Homo sapiens: one gene and its partners. The protein of the gene in region 4 interacts with the protein of the main gene of each other region in a pairwise test. Each region holds a gene or a part of one and is shown on either strand. Other genes may lie near its edges.

Region 1 (3,521 bases), on a different chromosome or scaffold from region 4:
TCTCTACTAAAATACAAAAAATTAGCCGGGCGTGGTGGTGCGCGCCTATAGTCCCAGCTACTCGGGAGGCTGAGGCAGGGGAATCGCTTGAACCCAGGAGGTGGAGGTTGCAGGGAGCCGAGATTGCGCCACTGCACTCCAGCCTGGTGACAGAGCGAGACTCCGTCTCAAAAAAAAAAAAAAAAATATATATATATATACACACACACAAACACACACACACACACACACACACACACACACTAAATAATATTAAACAATTAAGTTATGACCTGAGGCAAAAGATATGGTAGCAAACTGATTGATTACAATTCAGTGCTGTCATAACTCTTGAACTAGAAAGAGCAAATCTAAATACAGATAAGAAAAAAAACAAAAAGACCCGGTGTCAAATTATATCAGTTCACTGTATGCATCCAGGATTTTGAGACAAATTTATAGCATTATTGTCAATAAATTTTATGCACTATACATTAAATGTTTAACTACTTTTAACTGGTATTACAGTTAAGACTTTTAACAGAAACATTTTTAATGATGGAAGCAAAAATTCCTTTATCAGACAGTTTGTTCCAATTGTTAGATACATATTATATAGAAAGAGGGCCTCTGAATTTTAATACCCCCAACCTGTCTGCTAAAACTGGACAAATCACAAAGAGAAGAAAAGTTACTTTTTAAAGCAACTTTTACTGACACAATAATCAAAGACTGATATTCTTTTCCATGCCATATGGTATATTTTCTCCACATTTTGTGCTAATCTGCAATTTCAGTATATGTGCTAAAAGGCCTATATTCAACTATATACAAGAGCCTTTTCTTGATGAACACAAATATAAATATTAATTGGTAATTCCTTAAATAACTATTTTTAATATAACAGTGACATCAGAATTAACGTTCTTTTTTAAATGTTACATTTGATGAAATTCAAATGTAACATTTAAATGTATTTTATAAATAACATTGTATCTATAAATTTAGATATCCTAATAAGATTTACGTGATTTTAATATCATACTAGAATAGTTTATTTCCAAACTAAATTCTATTTCCTAAGAATAAATTATATATCTAGACATAAGACATGAACGTGATGTTCAGAGAACTGTTACATTAAATCACAAAAATCCATTATTCTTGATTCCAGGTTACCAGAGTTATTTGGTAGTAATACATATGTTCTAGTATTTTATAGTTATTCCATATAATTTTGATTAGTAGCCAAGTTAAATTTTATTTAAAGAGGTTATGAGTACAATAGATAGATTGAAAAATCCACATTTGTGTGTACATTCACCTTGTCACATCCATTCTTTCTCAGTTTACCTAGTTTGCTTACTCTCATACCTTATCTAGCTTAATCAATTGCTTGCTGTAAAATAACTATTCCTCACCACATGCTCAGAGTTAAAGAGGTATCATGTACATGAAAGAGTCTATAAAACTGTACAGTAATAGCAAGTATATATGTTAAGGACAGATTTGGAATTATCAGCAAACTTATAGAAAGAAATTATCTTTGAAGACTAGCAAGCTGCTAATGATTTCGGATCTTTAAAACATCTCTGAAGTATCCCAGGACCCTATACCAAATTAATACCCAATAAATGGTTACTTAAAGAATAAATGAAGAGATAGCTCTCGGCCAGCTCTTAGTTTGGCAGTCAGGAGCATCATTCATGTCTATACCATTCTTCTGTATGACTGCTTTCCAAAAAAAAATCAAATACAGCCATTATCCAACAGATATTCACTATTTCAGGCTATGACTTGAAAAGGGTGACCTCAGCTACCAAACTACCAATTATTTAATGAACTATCCCGAAAGTACAAGGATAGAAATATGTAAATGTAAACAAAAAAGTTGAAAAATGTTTCTAGATCAGCAAGTCATCGTTTTTCGCATAATCCCCACTGGATCGATAACAAGGGACAGCAAATAACAGTGAAGGACATACTGGTTCACTACATTCTGTTCTTTAGAGGAATGGCTACACTTACAGTCTCCTGTCATGACCATGGGCGACTGCACACCTCATGAAATCCATCCACTTATTCTATCTCATCAACATTCCTCAAAGTTACATCCATAATTGGACAAAATGTCAACTATTCCAAACAGCTCAGAATGCAGAGGGTTACAACTCACCCTGTTCTCAACAAAATTTACAGTTTTCAAAGAACCTGAAATCACACTAGCCATTTGTTTTAACATTGGTAACTTACTATCTATTAACCAGGTTCCCCATTCTTTTGGAATGCAGCTGGTTTTTTAAAACAAAAGTCTCATGCCTATTTTCCTCATAGCCATTTTACATTTAGCCTTGTTAAACTTTATCTTATTTTTCCATTTTGTTGTATTTCCATAAGAAATATTTTATAAGCTAGTCATCACTTTGACTATTTACCTTTTCTGTCATTCACAAATGTAATCGTATTTCTTCCATGTCTATTCAAATCATTGATTTGTTAGGCTCAAGTCAAAAAAGAAGCCTACAAGAACATTACAAGGGATCCCTGTACAGGCTAACATCTGTTTCAATAATTTATTCATTTTAATCATTCAAAATATTTATTAAGCACCTATTAAGAAACATTCACTGTATAAGGCATTGGGGATAATTTTTCATAAGATACACTATTCCCAACCTCATGGTACTTACAGTGGTGTACAATTCAAACATTTAAAATAAAGTATAAAAACAATTATAAGTAAAATGAGAGTCTATAGTTGAAGAGGTAATCTGGTATGAGAAATCTATAAAGTAATATTCTTTAATATGGTAGTTTATTCATCTGCAAATGTGCGTTACAATCTTCTAGCTATATTTGCTCCTTTATTCCACAAGGGTATATGTAACGTAATCGCAAATGTTCTACTTAAATCAAGATATACTATATCTAGAACCATGCCTGGCACATAATAGACAGTTTTTTAGAAGTGTTAGGGACATTCTCCAGCAGTGTAAAACTTAAATTGGTTCCTTTCACTGAGATACACAAAAATTTTAACATATTTAAATAACTATTCACAATCTATTCTAAATTTCCACCAGATTTAAAGACAGTAATTTACACCAGTGCTTACTTAACTAAACACTAATTTATAGCAGTATTCTCAAACTTTAATGTACATACGAATCACATGGGGCTCTTGTTAAAACAAAGATTCTAATTTGATAGGTCTGCAGAGAGCTCTAAGGTTCTGCAGTTCTAACAAGCTCCCAGGTGACACCAATGCTGCTGATGAATGGAACATACAATTAGTAGCAAGGGTTGGTAGAATTCACTTTTCCCCGTCTTTGACAATAGGATGTTTGTCTATCTTGTCTGACTTTCATTCTCCATGAGTTCTTAAAGATAAAGCATCTTAATTATAATTGTGATAACGCTGTTTTTAAAATTTCAGTACTCTGAGATAAACTTCTTCTTGACCTCGATTTATATAACTTAGCCTTGATTTATATAAACTATTGTTCTCTTGCTGTCGTCCTATCTACCATAAGTTTTGGGTC
Region 2 (3,120 bases), on a different chromosome or scaffold from region 4:
GATCAGGACCTGAGCTGGAAGATTTCTAAGTAGAGTCTATTACTCCTGCACCTGGTAGTCTTCATACGATCAAGACTGTGTCACAGTTTCCATTATGCACATAGTTTCTCATTCCACCCGCCCCCCCAGAGGTTTATAAAACTTAGCAATGAAAATTTGCTCCCACTGGGAACTTGGCAGGAAGAGTATGTTCTTAGCCCAGCAGCAGTTCTAGTTCAAAATTTTTTTTTGACAAAATTGGTTTAGTGCATTTTATAAAATGCATATATTAATCTAATTCACTTCAAGTTTTTCAATAACCATTTTTATTCCATTTCACCTTTAAGGCAGCTCACAGAGAACAAGTAGGGAATATATCTCATGAGAAGTCTACTCTGAATATGTTTTGAGTCACTTGTACATTTTTTCCCAGAATTATAAAGCTTTGCCTTAAATGTTTAACTTGCCCCACATGGCAACTACATCATTGCTTTTTCATGGATTTTTAGCATGTTGACATTAGACTTGAGAAATGTCATCTGGATCCTTCTTTCAGATAAATTCATGATGAAATTATTTGTCTTGCTTTTAAAGGTGTCAGAGAGCTGGGCATAGCGGCTTATGTCTATAATCCCAGCACTTTCTGGGGCTGAGGCTGGAAGATTGCTTGAGCCAAGGAGTTCAAGACCAGCCTGGGCAATATAGTGAGATGCCATCCCTACAAAAAGTAAAAAGATTAACCAGGTTTGGTGGCACACACCTGTAGTCCCAGCCGGAAGGCTGAGGTAGGAAGATCAGTTAAGCCTGGGAGGTCAAGGCTACAGTGAGCTGTGATTGCATCACTGCACACCAGCCTGGGCAACAAAGTAAGACCGTCTCAAAATAAAGATATCAAAGAAGGGATTCCAAAACCCTAACTGTGTTGATCTAAAGTTTGTCAAATCTCATTTTCAGGAAATGAGGCCTGAGTTGTGGCCTGAGTTCGTTTCCTAGTTAGAGATGTCCAGCCACTGACTGGCCCATTCTTCACCTCCTTGAAGTGCCAGGCCTCTGCCTACTCTTGTCTAAGCCATATGATCATAATGGGAGCTAATATTTTCAGGTTGAACTCTTTGTCAGACACCATACGAAGAGCATCATACTTGTTTAACTCATTACAGTCCTATTCTACAGATGAGGAAACAGACTGAGAGCTGAGATAACTGGCCCAAAGTTAAGCTGCTCTAACTGACCTTAAAGACTGTGTCAATCCTTAGGCCAGTGTTTCTCCCGCTGTGTCATGCTTCCTTCCTCATTCCATGCTTGATCAAACCCCAGCCTTGTGGTCTATGAATATTCATGTTTGAATTAGCTGAACCTTTCTCAGATATGATAAGCCAACTTCTGTGCTGTGCTTTTGCTTCAGATCTTGGGTAGTAATTTGGTCCCTGTGCCAAAGGAGCTCAGGTTGTTCAAGCAGCCACTTACCTTTTGCAGAGATGTGTTTTTTTAGTGTAATAGTCTGGGACTCTTGCTGTGGTCTTTCTTAAATGGATTTTGGTTTATATGGAATGGGAATTGGTGAAAGGGGCAGGCTGTAATAGGTTTCAGAAGTTTGGGGACAGTTGTATAGAATTTGTTCTGCCTATCATTTTGAAGCCATAATATTTTTCACTTTCAGTCAGGAGTGGGTCCCACGAGGCTATACACTCATTTTCTGACTTTGAGAACCAAATGAAAGTAGAAACCCAAAATCAACTTTATGACTGACTACTCATTACTTAGCATCAAACAGTGAAAGATGTATTTATTAGATATCTGTTGCCATGTAACCAGTTACGCCCAAAAGTCAGTGGCTTAAAACAATAATAAGCATGTATTATTTCACACTTTCTGTGGGTCACATAATTATGGAACAGCTCATCTGGTTGGTTCTGGCTTAGAGTATTTCTTGAGATTGTAGTCAAGACATCAGCCTGAGCTGATGCTCAACTGGGGCTGGAGGATCCCCTTCTAAGATGGCTTATTCACATCACTTTTTCTGGTTAGTTTAGGCTTTTGGAAAGAGGCCTCAGTGCCTTACCATGTGTTTCCTCTCCATAGAGATGTTGAGTGTCCTCACAACATGGCAGCCAGTTTTCCTGAGTGACCGATCCAAGAGAAAGTAAAGTGGAAGCCATAATGCCTTTTATGATCTAGCCTCAGAAATCACCCACTGTCATTTCTGCAACATTTTATTGGCCACACAGGTCATCCTGTGCATCATAGGAGGAGACTACACAAGAGTGTGAATACCAGGAAGCAAGGATCACTAGGGCCATCTTGGAGGTTGGCTACCATACACCACCATTCTTTTCCCCCCTTTTGTTGAGAAGAGGAGTAATGCAAATAATGCTGGAAAAATAGAGAAAGATAAAAGGATATAGAGTGTAAAACAAGTCACCTCCCTCTCGTTTCCTACAAGCTGTAATTCTGCACAGGAAGGCTAAGGAGCATGGAGGCAGGGGCACAGATAATATTAAACCAACTAAGCTTCTGCCATTTTTAAGCGATAATGACACCTTTCCCACTAACTCCAAATTCTGAGCCAAGGAGAAACAGACCCAAATGTCAGAATAATAGAGATGAGAATGTCAACCTCGTTACTGGTAATGTTGGATTGAACTTGTGGCCATAGCCCTCCCCTCCATGTCTGGACCTTGGGACTACCTTCCCAAGGGATAATCTGGGTATGTGGGGCAGATTACCTTCCTCAGAATTGCTGCCTCGCCCATGTCAAACACCAGTGTAAGGGACGTAGGGACACAGAGACAGACTTCCAGACTCACCTTCCTGACCTCTGTGTGCTTACAACATAGAGGTGGAGCAGAGCCTCCTTAGCCTGTGGGCAGGCGGTTCAGAGAGGACTGAACCCCCCCTGCTCAGCTACTTCTCCCAGTCTCACCAATCAAATAAATTCACTCCTGTTTCCTTGGAGAAGAGGGAGGGATAGAAATGATACCCCTCTCGGGAAATGAAATGAAACTCTCCTTTATGGCCAAGATACAAACACTGGTAGGGAACAAGGATGGCTGTCCTTGTTAAGGTCACTCAGATGAACCAGTCTGGGCCATCAGTAGTGGGTTGACACACATATCCAAATCCAGTCTTTGTTAGTACTAA
Region 3 (3,521 bases), on a different chromosome or scaffold from region 4:
TCACACTACAATAAACAAACAAAAACAACATGCATTCCTCGCATTAGGTTAAAGACACCTTCAAATATTTTTCTCTTTTATACTTTTTTTTTAATTGTGGGTATTACAACTCCCACAAAAATGAGGTGCTGAATTCAGATATAGTAAGCAGGCACCATGCAAAAGCTGCCCAGTTTTGCCAATCAACCTTGATCACAATCTACAACACAGTCCCTCGGATGGCAGGCCCCATCTCAAGTGTGAAGAAACTGCCAAGTGAACAAAATGGTCTTCTCAACAGTATTTCCATGTAAACAATTAGGACACAACATTAGTTCAATTAGACAAGTTACTAACACACTGTGAAGGAAGAATGCATTTTCTTAATAGTAGTAGTCTTATTAGTTGAATAAACAATTTATGCAATGCAAATTTTGAATGTATATGCACACATGTGTACATGTAAGTATAATATATTTAGAAAGCAGACATAGACATTTTTTTCATGCTTGTGACCTGATGGTGTCCACAGGTCCACTCAAGTTACCTGGCTGTCTATCTTCTGCCTGACCCCTGAAGCGACGCCTGCGGCTACGATTGCGTCGCTGGGGTTTTTTTTCACTATCATCTGTAATTGCAAAGTTTACCATGAACTATTCTGACAAAAACAAACAAAAAAACAAAAAAACCTTCTTTCCTTCAAAGATTTAAAGGGGAAAAATAAACTTTTAATTAAACACAAAAATAAAACAACAAATGTTTACTGACAGGAAATACATTTTTGTAGCTTTCAGCATTCCAAATGGATTAAAAATGGAATTATCATCTGGAAATTCAGAGGGTTTTAACTCACAGTAAAACTCAGACTTAAACTGCCATCATTCAGGGACACAGTCTTCCTCTCTAGTACAGTTTGGTTTATACCGAAGTTAATGACATTTTAGCCCTTGAAAATTAATGCCTACTCTTGATATATGTACCTTTACCAGTGTCATTTATAATTATTTTAAAAGAGGCAAGATGAAAGCCTGATTTTAGCTTGGGGACAATAAAAGCACTAAGTACCTTGCCAGCTGAATATTTGTACTGATTTAATGGCATCAAAGGGCACTTTAACCCTCCAAGTTTCAAATAATTTGGCTATAACAAATCTGAGAACTAAACATTTAAGATAGACAAAAAGCTATCTACCTTGTTCAAAGTAAACACTAAGAAAAAGTCAATTTGTGAATTGCATATTTCTTTGAAAAAAGCTTCATATACTAACAATAGTTTACAATTATATATATATATATATATATATATATATATATATATATTTCTCTTCCCTAAGTGCTTACATACCTAGCCCATTTTCATTAACTGAAGCTGTATCAGATTCAGTCATTCCATCCATCAGAACAGCATCTTCATCAGTCCTTCGTCTACGAGACCGCCTACGACGGTTAGTACTGTGATGAGATTCGCTGGCATCAGTGTCTGCAGTCTGATCTGATTCTGTATTATCAAGTAAGCTGTATGGATTGCTGTCTGGATCTTTGAGCACTATATTCATGTCAGAGGCAAGAAATATTCGTTTAAGAGTACTGCAATTATGAATGTTTGATCTATATTGAACTATATCAATGACAAATAAACTTCAGTCTCCCCCAATAAAAATGCACTGTCTTCAAATAAAATGTTTTCAATATTATTTACCTGGAAAATAACAAAGATAATTAAATATGATAAAACTTTAAGTGGTGATGAAAAATTAAAGCAGAAAGTAAGCAGACATCTTGGCTTCCTAACATTTCCTGTGCCTTGTTTTTAAAATATACATTAGAAAATAGTGTATTAAATGCTAATTCTTGCATTCACATTTCAAGGTAATCCTGCCCAGAGACTAGAAAAACAAAAATGAAAAGAAACAAATATTCAGCTGTTAAGAAATAATTATAAGAGCGAGCTTTCATCCCCTTAACTGAGTTCAAAATGACTGCAGCTTTGTTGTGTTGATGTTGATGGACTGTTTCCCAAATAATATTCAATACCTGCATTCCATGACATAATAGAAATCCGTAACTGAACTGAAGCAATCAAGACAAGTTGAAACAAAGCAGCCAATTAAATAAGGTTGAACTTCTAACTGGTTATGAAAGGAAAATGTTGAAACGAATGCTGACTAGTACTCCATCTTTAGAAACATTATGGAAGGTGATGTGAAGGTGGAAAAGGAAAAACTGTAAGGTACAATTCATAAGAAAAATACCCATCTTACCTATGTGCATTTATTACCTCCAACAATCAAATTTATAGAAGAAATTCACCTAATTCCGATTTTTCCTAAGATTCCTTTGGTAACAGCTAGCAAGCTAAGCATCTTTGCAAAAGACACTAAGCGTATCCATTAATCATAAAACACTAGGTCAAGTACATTTATTTTGCAATTCAGTATACTGTAATTTTAAACACCTTGGTAACTGTACAAAGTGTACTAAAATATAAAAACTATTACCCTGAAAGCCTGTAAACTAAACTTAAGGCTCAAAGAGTATTACTGTGGAAAGGGAGAAAATCTAAACAAACAAAGAACAAGTTCCTAATTTTTGCCCTGATTTGTTCCAGTTTTTGTAATTTGTAAGCACAGTTGGCATCTATATTTAATGTATCTACACACACTTTCTATAATATTAAAATACTACATAAGTTTTCATGGGTATAACATTAAGGAAGGTGCGGGTTTCTTAACGTGGTATACCATAATGATATGTTAAAGTTATATCCTTAATATAGTCTATGTATCTATCCCTGGCAATTAACTCCCTAGCCCGTTATGGTAACCAAGGATATTCTGGAAACTCCTACAACTTAATGTAAAGCATAAAAAAATTTTAGAAGACAGAAGTAATTAAGTAAAACGTTTCCTACACCCTCAAATCTTTAGTCATCCAAACACTCCTCTTTACAGCACAGTTCCTCCAACAATTAAAAAACTTAGTTAATTCCACAATTTTTCCCTGTTCCCAAAGTACTACATAGTGTAGCTAAGAATGCTCTTCACTTCGTTTTCAATATTAAGTATAGAAAAGTACTGACATCTCTCTGTGCATTAGAAATCTCTGGGTCTGTCTGGCAAACAAAAAAACATAACCCCAAAATTCTAGGGAAAACAAAAAAAATTCTAATTAAATAAGCCTCCAAAACCTGAAGAGAGAAACATCTGACCCTCATCATATAAAGAAAAGCTGCCAACTAAAGTTCTGACCAGTATATTCTAAGTAAACCTTCACTGAGAAACACTCTACGAGGGCTTTTCCTGATACTGCTATATGGTCCACTACTTTCTCTAAGACAATGAGTAGCAAGAGAAACTTCCAAAAATGGGTGGCCCTGGGAGATGAATTAACTTTTGTAAAATTAAACTGTTTACAAATAATGGATGCTGACAGAGTATAGAAAAGACTACCAGAACTGATGGAGGATTTGCCACCACGTGGTCCACCACGACCTCGACCCCCTGAAACACTTCTGCCTCTTCCTCCTGGGCGTCTCCTGCTGTC
Region 4 (3,521 bases):
ACTTTCATCGTCGGCTCCACCCAGTAGCCATCACTGAGGTGGATTTCAGAGAGCACCTGATTGATCCCTGCTGAGCTATGCAAAGCATGTTTGTTCTTGGGAGGGCCTTGACTCTCCCACCGGCATCTGGCATCTCACTGGCTCCTGGCAATACTGGCCTTTTCCTGTTCTCAGACAGAAAGGTGCTTCCCCTCAGCTTGGTCTAGGACTTAGGGAAAGCATTCATATTTTCTTTTCCAAAACTATTTCTATTTCTCTGTGGCCCATCCTCGCCTCTGAGTGCTCTGAGGTGGAACCCGATGCCCTGCACCAGGAGGCTCCCTCTTCCAGCCTGACTTTTGGTCCATTTCCTCCACACCTAGCTCTCCAGGCACAGGGGGCGTCAGCCTTCCCAGCCTTACCTTAACTCTGCCCACTGTCCCTCTTACAGCACGGGACGTCCTCATCGTTCTGCGAGCCCTCCCGGCTCTCTCACCCACGGAGCCATTCGCCTTTGTGTGGCCACTGTAAGCCCCACACACCTGGACTTACTCTCACAGGAAACTGCTCAGAAGCCTGCCTCCTGTCTTGGCGATGTACAAACGCCCAGGCCCAGTAGAGGCTCCGGAGACGCCCGTGCTGCGGATCCACCTTGCTGCTCCCTGACACACGGGGAGCCTCCCCTCCCTGCCATCTGTGATGCAAGCAAAGAGCCCCTTGGCAGGAAACCCAGGCTGTGGCCCTGCCATGAAGCGCCACACCAGCTGCCTGCAGCTGTGGGCCTCTGTCATCTCGCATCATCCTCATGGAGCCACGGGAAGGTAATGAGAGGAACTAGGACTGCAGTGTGAAGACCCTGGGCACACAGAGTTCTCACTTGGGTCAGCCAATTGGAAGGCAGCTGGGAGGGCCAGGAGAAGGCGACAAAGTGGCAGGGGGTGGAGGTGGGGTTACCAAGGGAGCAGGGCCCCCGCTGCAGCTTCCTCTGTTCTGGCAGGTGAGGCCTACTCCCGTGCCCTCTGGTGCCTAAGTGAGCCACGATATTGGTAGTCCAAGGTGAGCACATTCCTGATGCCAAGTCATATTTAAAAATAAAATCCAAGCTTTGCATCCCTTTTGAGAAAGACCTGGACGATCTCCCCATCTGCTCGGGTTTCATTTGGGGAACAGCGGAGAGCCACAATGGCAGGCTGCAGCCACACCCGCTGCAGCGAGCAGACACACATGGCCAGGTCTCAGGCCCAAGAGCCCGGCCGGGATGTAGATGGAACTACTCTCTCTCCGTCGCTCAGGGCAATGCCCTCTGGGCTCCTACCCTTCATAACTCCTTCTCCTGAGTCCTCCATAAAGAACCCTGGAGAATGGGGTGCCTTCACCACACATTCACCAGAGTGTCCTCTGCAAACTCGACCACTGCGGCCACATCTTATTTCTGTTAGGATCTTAAGAGCAAGGACTGTTCTTTTTCCCGCATTTATCTCTGAAATTGTCTCCACATTTATCTCTGCTCAGGACAGGGCTGGTACATGGTAGATGCTTCAGGAAATATTTGCTGAGCTAAAATGAAGGATCTGGAGTTTAGAGGACTCCTGTGGGCTTGCGCTTCAGACTAACCCCTTGGGAAGGGAAAACTTAAGTAACAGTTTCCCCTGCTTGGCTAAACCCAGGGAACAAAGATTCTGGGGTCAAGAGAGGATTCTCTGTGCAGCGCTGGGGGCGGGGGCAGGAGCTTCCTGCTAGGCACACCAAGTCTCGGGAGGTGTAGAGACCCACCTCTTGGCCAGCAGTTTGTTCATTTCCTCCATGAGGCCTCCTCCGCCACCCCCGCTGCTTGCCCGGTTGGCATCGGACTTTGAGGTCCCACTGGGACTGGAGCCTCCAGATGCGTCTTCTGGCTGAGGAAAAAGGAGGCCGCGTTTTAGATTCTGCTGCTGATGGCAGAACAGGAGCAGCAACGATGTGAGGGGATGCAGGGGACTGTGTGCGTGTGAATCCTATGGCAGCAGCACTGCAAGGGGCCTCAGGGGCCATCTGGTCCATTATTCTCCAACCCCACAGGGGAGAAAACCAGAATCGAGAGAGGGACAAGGACCAGCCCAGGTCACACAAGTCGCAGACACTCCCCAGGCCTGCAGACTCATGGTTAGTGTCTTTGCCAAGACCAGCCATGACACATGGAGGGAGGGAGGGAGGGGAGAAGAGACTATCCTGTGGGAAGGAAACACAATGTAAGCCAAAGGTCTGTATTAGAGCTATTCTTACAAGCACAGTTCTAGAACATATGAGCAAGGGTTAGGGAAGAAACAGCCGGGTGGACCTAGTTGCCAGCATACAGCTTCCTACAGTGGAAAGGGCAATGGACATAGATTCAGGAGACCCAGGCTTGAGTCCAAAATCTGCAATTTGTAAACGGTGTGACTTGAGCAAATTACTCGTGCTCTTTGTGCTTCAATTTCCTCATCTCTAAAGGGGGACATAGTTCTTGCCCCACGTGTGAAGGTCAACGTGAGGCTCAAAGGCTAACTTCATAATTTCAAAGTGCTGTCCCATGTGATTTCTCGTTTGAGAACAAGTGGCCAAGGGCCAGCTAGCTTTGGGCAGGGAAGCAGTTTGCTGTGTCTCGCAGATGCGGGAAGGAACACAAGCGCTCTGCAGATGGCACAAGGGTCCCCTCGGTCCCATTCCCACCCCGCACACAGGAGCTCTTACCCGTTGGACTCTTCTCAGCTTGGCCCCAGCTATGGCAGCGGCCAGTCCTGACATGGAGCTCTCGTCGTGGCTGGACCCCTGGGCTCCTCCGGCTGGCAGTGGGGGTGGGGGAGGTGGGGTAGCCCCAGTGGGTGGAGGTGGGACTGGGGGTGGGGGGGGCGGTGGAGGCCCACTACATGAGACGGGGGCGCTGGCTGCAGATGAAGGATGTCCTGGTGGGAGGATGGGCCCTGAAACACAACAGTGAGGCTCAGCCAGCTCCAGCACCCAGCTGGGGGCCAAGCCTGCTGCTCTCAGCTCAGGTTCCCCGGAGGAAGGACAGGGGCAGGCTGCTCCCCAAAGGGATGAGAAACAGCTCCAGGCCTGCTTCATCCAGGAAGCCTCCGCGGGATGAACTTGGCTCTGGCACAATTATTCCCTATTCTGGTGTCCTCAGTACTCCGGGGCCTGGCTGGACCCACAGGTGTCCTCTATTTGCTTAACATTCCTTGAGCCCAGGCAATTTCCTCTTGCTCCAATCATGTTTTTCCAGGGGGAGAGGAAGCTGTCTGGTTACAGTCTGTGCCTCTTCTCTTCTCTGCTCCTTCTAAGCACCTAGCACCCCCTAGGCAGAAGTTGGTCACCAAGATCCAACTGTGACTGACACTTGGGTCGTTGGGGGCCGTGGCAGGTCCTGTGGGTCCCAGGGCCGACTGGGGGCATGGGTCAGGGCGCAATGCCGAGTGCTGGGCTCCAGCATCATCCATCCAGCCCCTTCCGCCAGTGCTGCCTAAGCCTGTTTTGTGCCAGGCACTGTGCTAGGTGCTGGGTATGGTGCTGAGGAAAACCAGCCA
Region 5 (3,533 bases), on a different chromosome or scaffold from region 4:
CTGCACAGATTCATTTCTATGCAGAGGAAGGGACTGAGACTTAAGATGGTAATCAAGTGGCAACATGAATGGATTGGTAAGTGGGGACTATTTGTGCAGAACGCTAGCAGTTTTATACACAGCAATTAAGATATCTAAGAATTCTCACCAGCAAATGACACCATTACCTTTTATAGATCAAATCAGAATGTCGGCATATAAACCTGTTCAGAATAAACCTGGCCTGAAAATTTTTGAAGATAGCATCACCTCTTCTTTTTTTAAAATTAATTCTTAATTTTATAAATAATTCTATTAACTGTTACTTTAACAGGATATTGAAGTATTATTTTTATTACATTAAAACTTAAGAGAAAATACGGGAGCTTGGAGGACAAGAGAAAGCCCTGCTATGCTGGAATTTTGTCTTTCTGAGAGTAATAACATCTACAATAATTTTGAAGTATGGAAAAAAAACAAGAAGAAAACAGGTGTTATGCTGATCTGTGTGTTGTTTCATTGTACAAACTAAAATATTCATGTTCCCCAGAAAATCAAATATCTTTATTTTCAAATTTAAATTTAAACACATTCCAAAGTTTAAAAAAATTGTTTGAAAATTGCCTTGGATTTTATTTATCTACTATACCATGGCCCTTCTTTACAGTAAAATTAGCTGCCCACTCTTATATGAGTACAGTTCCCAGAAATATAGAAGCTCAACATTTTACTTAACTTTGCCCCAAAAAATATTTTTAAAAAGAATTACTTTATTCTATAATCGGAATAAAGCAAAATGATAAAGACGTGCAAAACAGAACAAATAAAAATAGAAACTTTGACACCCCTCAGCAGTGACTAGTTGCATACAAAATAGCTTCCACTCCTCCAACTCTATTAACCTTTCTATCTCCCACCCTTGAGATTTTTTAAGATCCTACAATAAATGTAATATGCACACAAACACAAGCACACACACACACACACACACACACACACACACACGAGGCCATCTTTATCTTCCACATTTGCCTGTACTCTTTGCCCCCCAGTAAATTTCCCACGACACTAAGATTTTCTACGATCCACGAGGAGCTGCTTATTAGTTGCCAAAGTAGGAATTGGTGAAGCCAACGTAGTCATAGCCAGAGAGATGGCTTCGACCCCGTGGGTCCATATATTGCTGCATATGTGTGGCACAGAATGACACTTGCTCTGGGGTAAGGGCCTGAAAAGTATAAAAAGAGAAAAATACAGTTATAGGGATTCAAAATAGCTGGTTCCTTGGGGCTTCCCATATTACGCCATAAATGCAGGAGATGGAGAGTCTCTGGAAGACGCAAGCCCTATTTCTATTACACACAATTTTTATCTCATAAATTTATAATTTCTAATGAGTAACTTAACTTTTAATCTCAGCCCTTTCTTGAAAAAGAGAGCTTACTCACTTTGATTATTCTGTAAATCTCATTCCCTAAAGTTGTTTTATTAAATAGAAGGAATTATATGCCTAACAACATTTGTTGACCACTTGATCTATTTCATCTTCCTGGCTGCTTTGAGATGTGGGGACTAGCATGTTTTATGAGTAAGGTAAAATACTCAAGAAGGTAGAATAACTCACCAGTGGTTACACTGCCAGAAAGTGGTAGAGCTGGGACTTGAACCTATGATCCTCTTATGCCAAAGAGTTCCTCTATTCACTGTGCTGTTTGATTACCAAGTGGATCCCTAAAGACTCCAATAAGTTAGCGTGTGGGTGGGTGGCTCCAGATAGTGTCTGGAAGACCACATCATTTTCTTTTTGTAACAGCTTTGTCGAGGTATGATTGATAAAGAATTGCACCTTTAATGTGTACAGTTTGATGAGTTTAGACAATTGGATGAGTTTGTGCAAAACGATACCATCATGTATGTGACCCTTTGTAATCTGGTTTCTGCTTAATTGTTTTCCCTTTCACTTTCTGTTACTATCTTCTTACCTTATGCTTTAGGTATTAGGAAAATCTGTTTTCTCAAGTTCCTTTGCACACACACTTGCCTTTGCCTGAAACACTTAGGCTTTCCTTTGATGACTTGATGAGTTCCTGCACGTCCTTCAACACTCACCCTGTGTTAATCATAGATGATACTTTCCCTGATGCAAGTATTTTAAGGAGAGGAATGAAGAAAGCTCTTGGAATCAGAGAGAAGAGAGATTACTTCTGGTTGTAATAAAATTCCCCACATCTTTGTTCCCATGACAGATGTGTTTGCTTCTGTTACAGTGTTTTTAACTTGTAAAGTTCTGTCTTCCCCACTACACCTGAATTTAGGGACTGTGTCTTACTAAAGTTTGCACTCCTCATGCCTGGAACATAGTAAGCATTCAATAAATGCTCTTTGAATTAATGAGGAAAAAAAAAAGAAATAGCCTTAAAAACTGAGTTGCAGATTTTGAATTGACTCTCACATTCAATAGAGTACCACAGTACGTTTTTGAGTTGGGTCAAGACAAAATGAAGTGGTTACCAAAGCAAATGACATCTTGTGAAAGGGGAGGTCTGAAAAAAAAAAACAAGTGGGTGGGTTTTTTCAAAGTAGGCCACCGGGCCTGAGATGACCAGAATTCAAATTAGGATGACAGTGTAGTAGGGGAAGCAACCAGAATCGGACCTGCTTCATGTCTTCTTTGGTAATATATGACTTGCCCTCTGCCAGGGCTTGGAAGGCATTCTCTATTTCATCACTGGACTTGATGTTTTCTGACTCCTTGTCAATCAGGAAAGCAGTATAGTCCTCCAGTGAGACATAGCCCTTCCTGTGGGAGAAATGGATCAGGAGCTGAGCCTTCTCAAGGCAGAGAAGGAAGTCCCCTTTTTAATCCTACTCAGTGTCTCAGAAACAGAGGAAAGCCAGATTCTCCAAGTGCCTCTTCCAACTAAGCTTTCTGGGATGAGATGGGTTATGCTCTCCATTTTGGCTCCCCTTCATCACCCTCTTACAGCCAAACATTACTAAGCCAAATATTACTAAATATTACTAAGCTCCAGACTCTGTTTCAACATGGGTCATTCAGCCTGATTCTCGGTGAATTTTGAAATTTCCCATCAGCACCAGTCCTCAAATAATTTCTGGTCTTCTTTGGTTTTTAGTATTAGCAAGAATTATTCCCTAACAGTTACTTGATCTCTTGATGATTCTAACACACTCCCATAAGCACATAACCACCCCAACCCCATGTGTTGGTCTCTGAATCACCTATGTCTCCTTAAAATCTCACATACATGAAGGGATTCTTCTCTCTAGTCTCATCCTCAAAAGTAGCTGAAATTCATAGATTGAACATAAATCATGAATTGGAGAAATTGTAAAGCTAGTCCTCGAGTTAAAGTTAGCACCATTCACTGCTGAGCTAATCTTGAAAGGGCACCAAGAGCTGCCTAATTCATTTATGGTTGCCTATTTCTTCCTATTTTCAGATGAGTTAATTTCATGTTTTATGGATCATTTTACTCTCTGTGCTTCTCCCTCCAAACCCCCATCCCTGCTGCGGTCTGACCCTTAGTCTTGTT

Evidence for each region.
Region 1: the proteins of EVL (region 4) and GDAP1 interact in binary tests that used the Homo sapiens proteins (3 or more experiments, as listed by UniProt).
Region 2: the proteins of EVL (region 4) and SH3RF1 interact in a two-hybrid assay, tested with the Homo sapiens proteins (one large-scale study listed by BioGRID).
Region 3: the proteins of EVL (region 4) and FXR1 interact in a two-hybrid assay, tested with the Homo sapiens proteins (one large-scale study listed by BioGRID and IntAct).
Region 5: the proteins of EVL (region 4) and SPTA1 interact in a two-hybrid assay, tested with the Homo sapiens proteins (one study listed by IntAct).

What each region holds. Positions count from the first base shown.
Region 1 is NC_000008.11:74,353,382-74,356,902, reverse strand, and holds part of GDAP1 (ganglioside-induced differentiation-associated protein 1), read right to left. Parts: intron 1-3,521. UniProt on the Homo sapiens protein: Regulates the mitochondrial network by promoting mitochondrial fission.
Region 2 is NC_000004.12:169,096,851-169,099,970, reverse strand, and holds part of SH3RF1 (E3 ubiquitin-protein ligase SH3RF1), read left to right. Parts: intron 1-3,120. UniProt on the Homo sapiens protein: Has E3 ubiquitin-protein ligase activity. In the absence of an external substrate, it can catalyze self-ubiquitination. Stimulates ubiquitination of potassium channel KCNJ1, enhancing it's dynamin-dependent and clathrin-independent endocytosis.
Region 3 is NC_000003.12:180,968,161-180,971,681, reverse strand, and holds part of FXR1 (RNA-binding protein FXR1), read right to left. Parts: coding exon 3,428-3,521; intron 1,525-3,427; coding exon 1,324-1,524; intron 608-1,323; coding exon of another isoform or gene 527-607; intron 1-526. UniProt on the Homo sapiens protein: mRNA-binding protein that acts as a regulator of mRNAs translation and/or stability, and which is required for various processes, such as neurogenesis, muscle development and spermatogenesis.
Region 4 is NC_000014.9:100,127,916-100,131,436, reverse strand, and holds part of EVL (ena/VASP-like protein), read right to left. Parts: intron 2,919-3,521; coding exon 2,689-2,918; intron 1,875-2,688; coding exon 1,753-1,874; intron 1,106-1,752; exon of another isoform or gene 977-1,105; intron 801-976; exon of another isoform or gene 1-800. UniProt on the Homo sapiens protein: Ena/VASP proteins are actin-associated proteins involved in a range of processes dependent on cytoskeleton remodeling and cell polarity such as axon guidance and lamellipodial and filopodial dynamics in migrating cells.
Region 5 is NC_000001.11:158,610,183-158,613,715, forward strand, and holds the end of SPTA1 (spectrin alpha chain, erythrocytic 1), read right to left. Parts: intron 2,780-3,533; coding exon 2,635-2,779; intron 2,333-2,634; exon of another isoform or gene 1,208-2,332; coding exon 1,082-1,207; 3' UTR 522-1,081; downstream 1-521.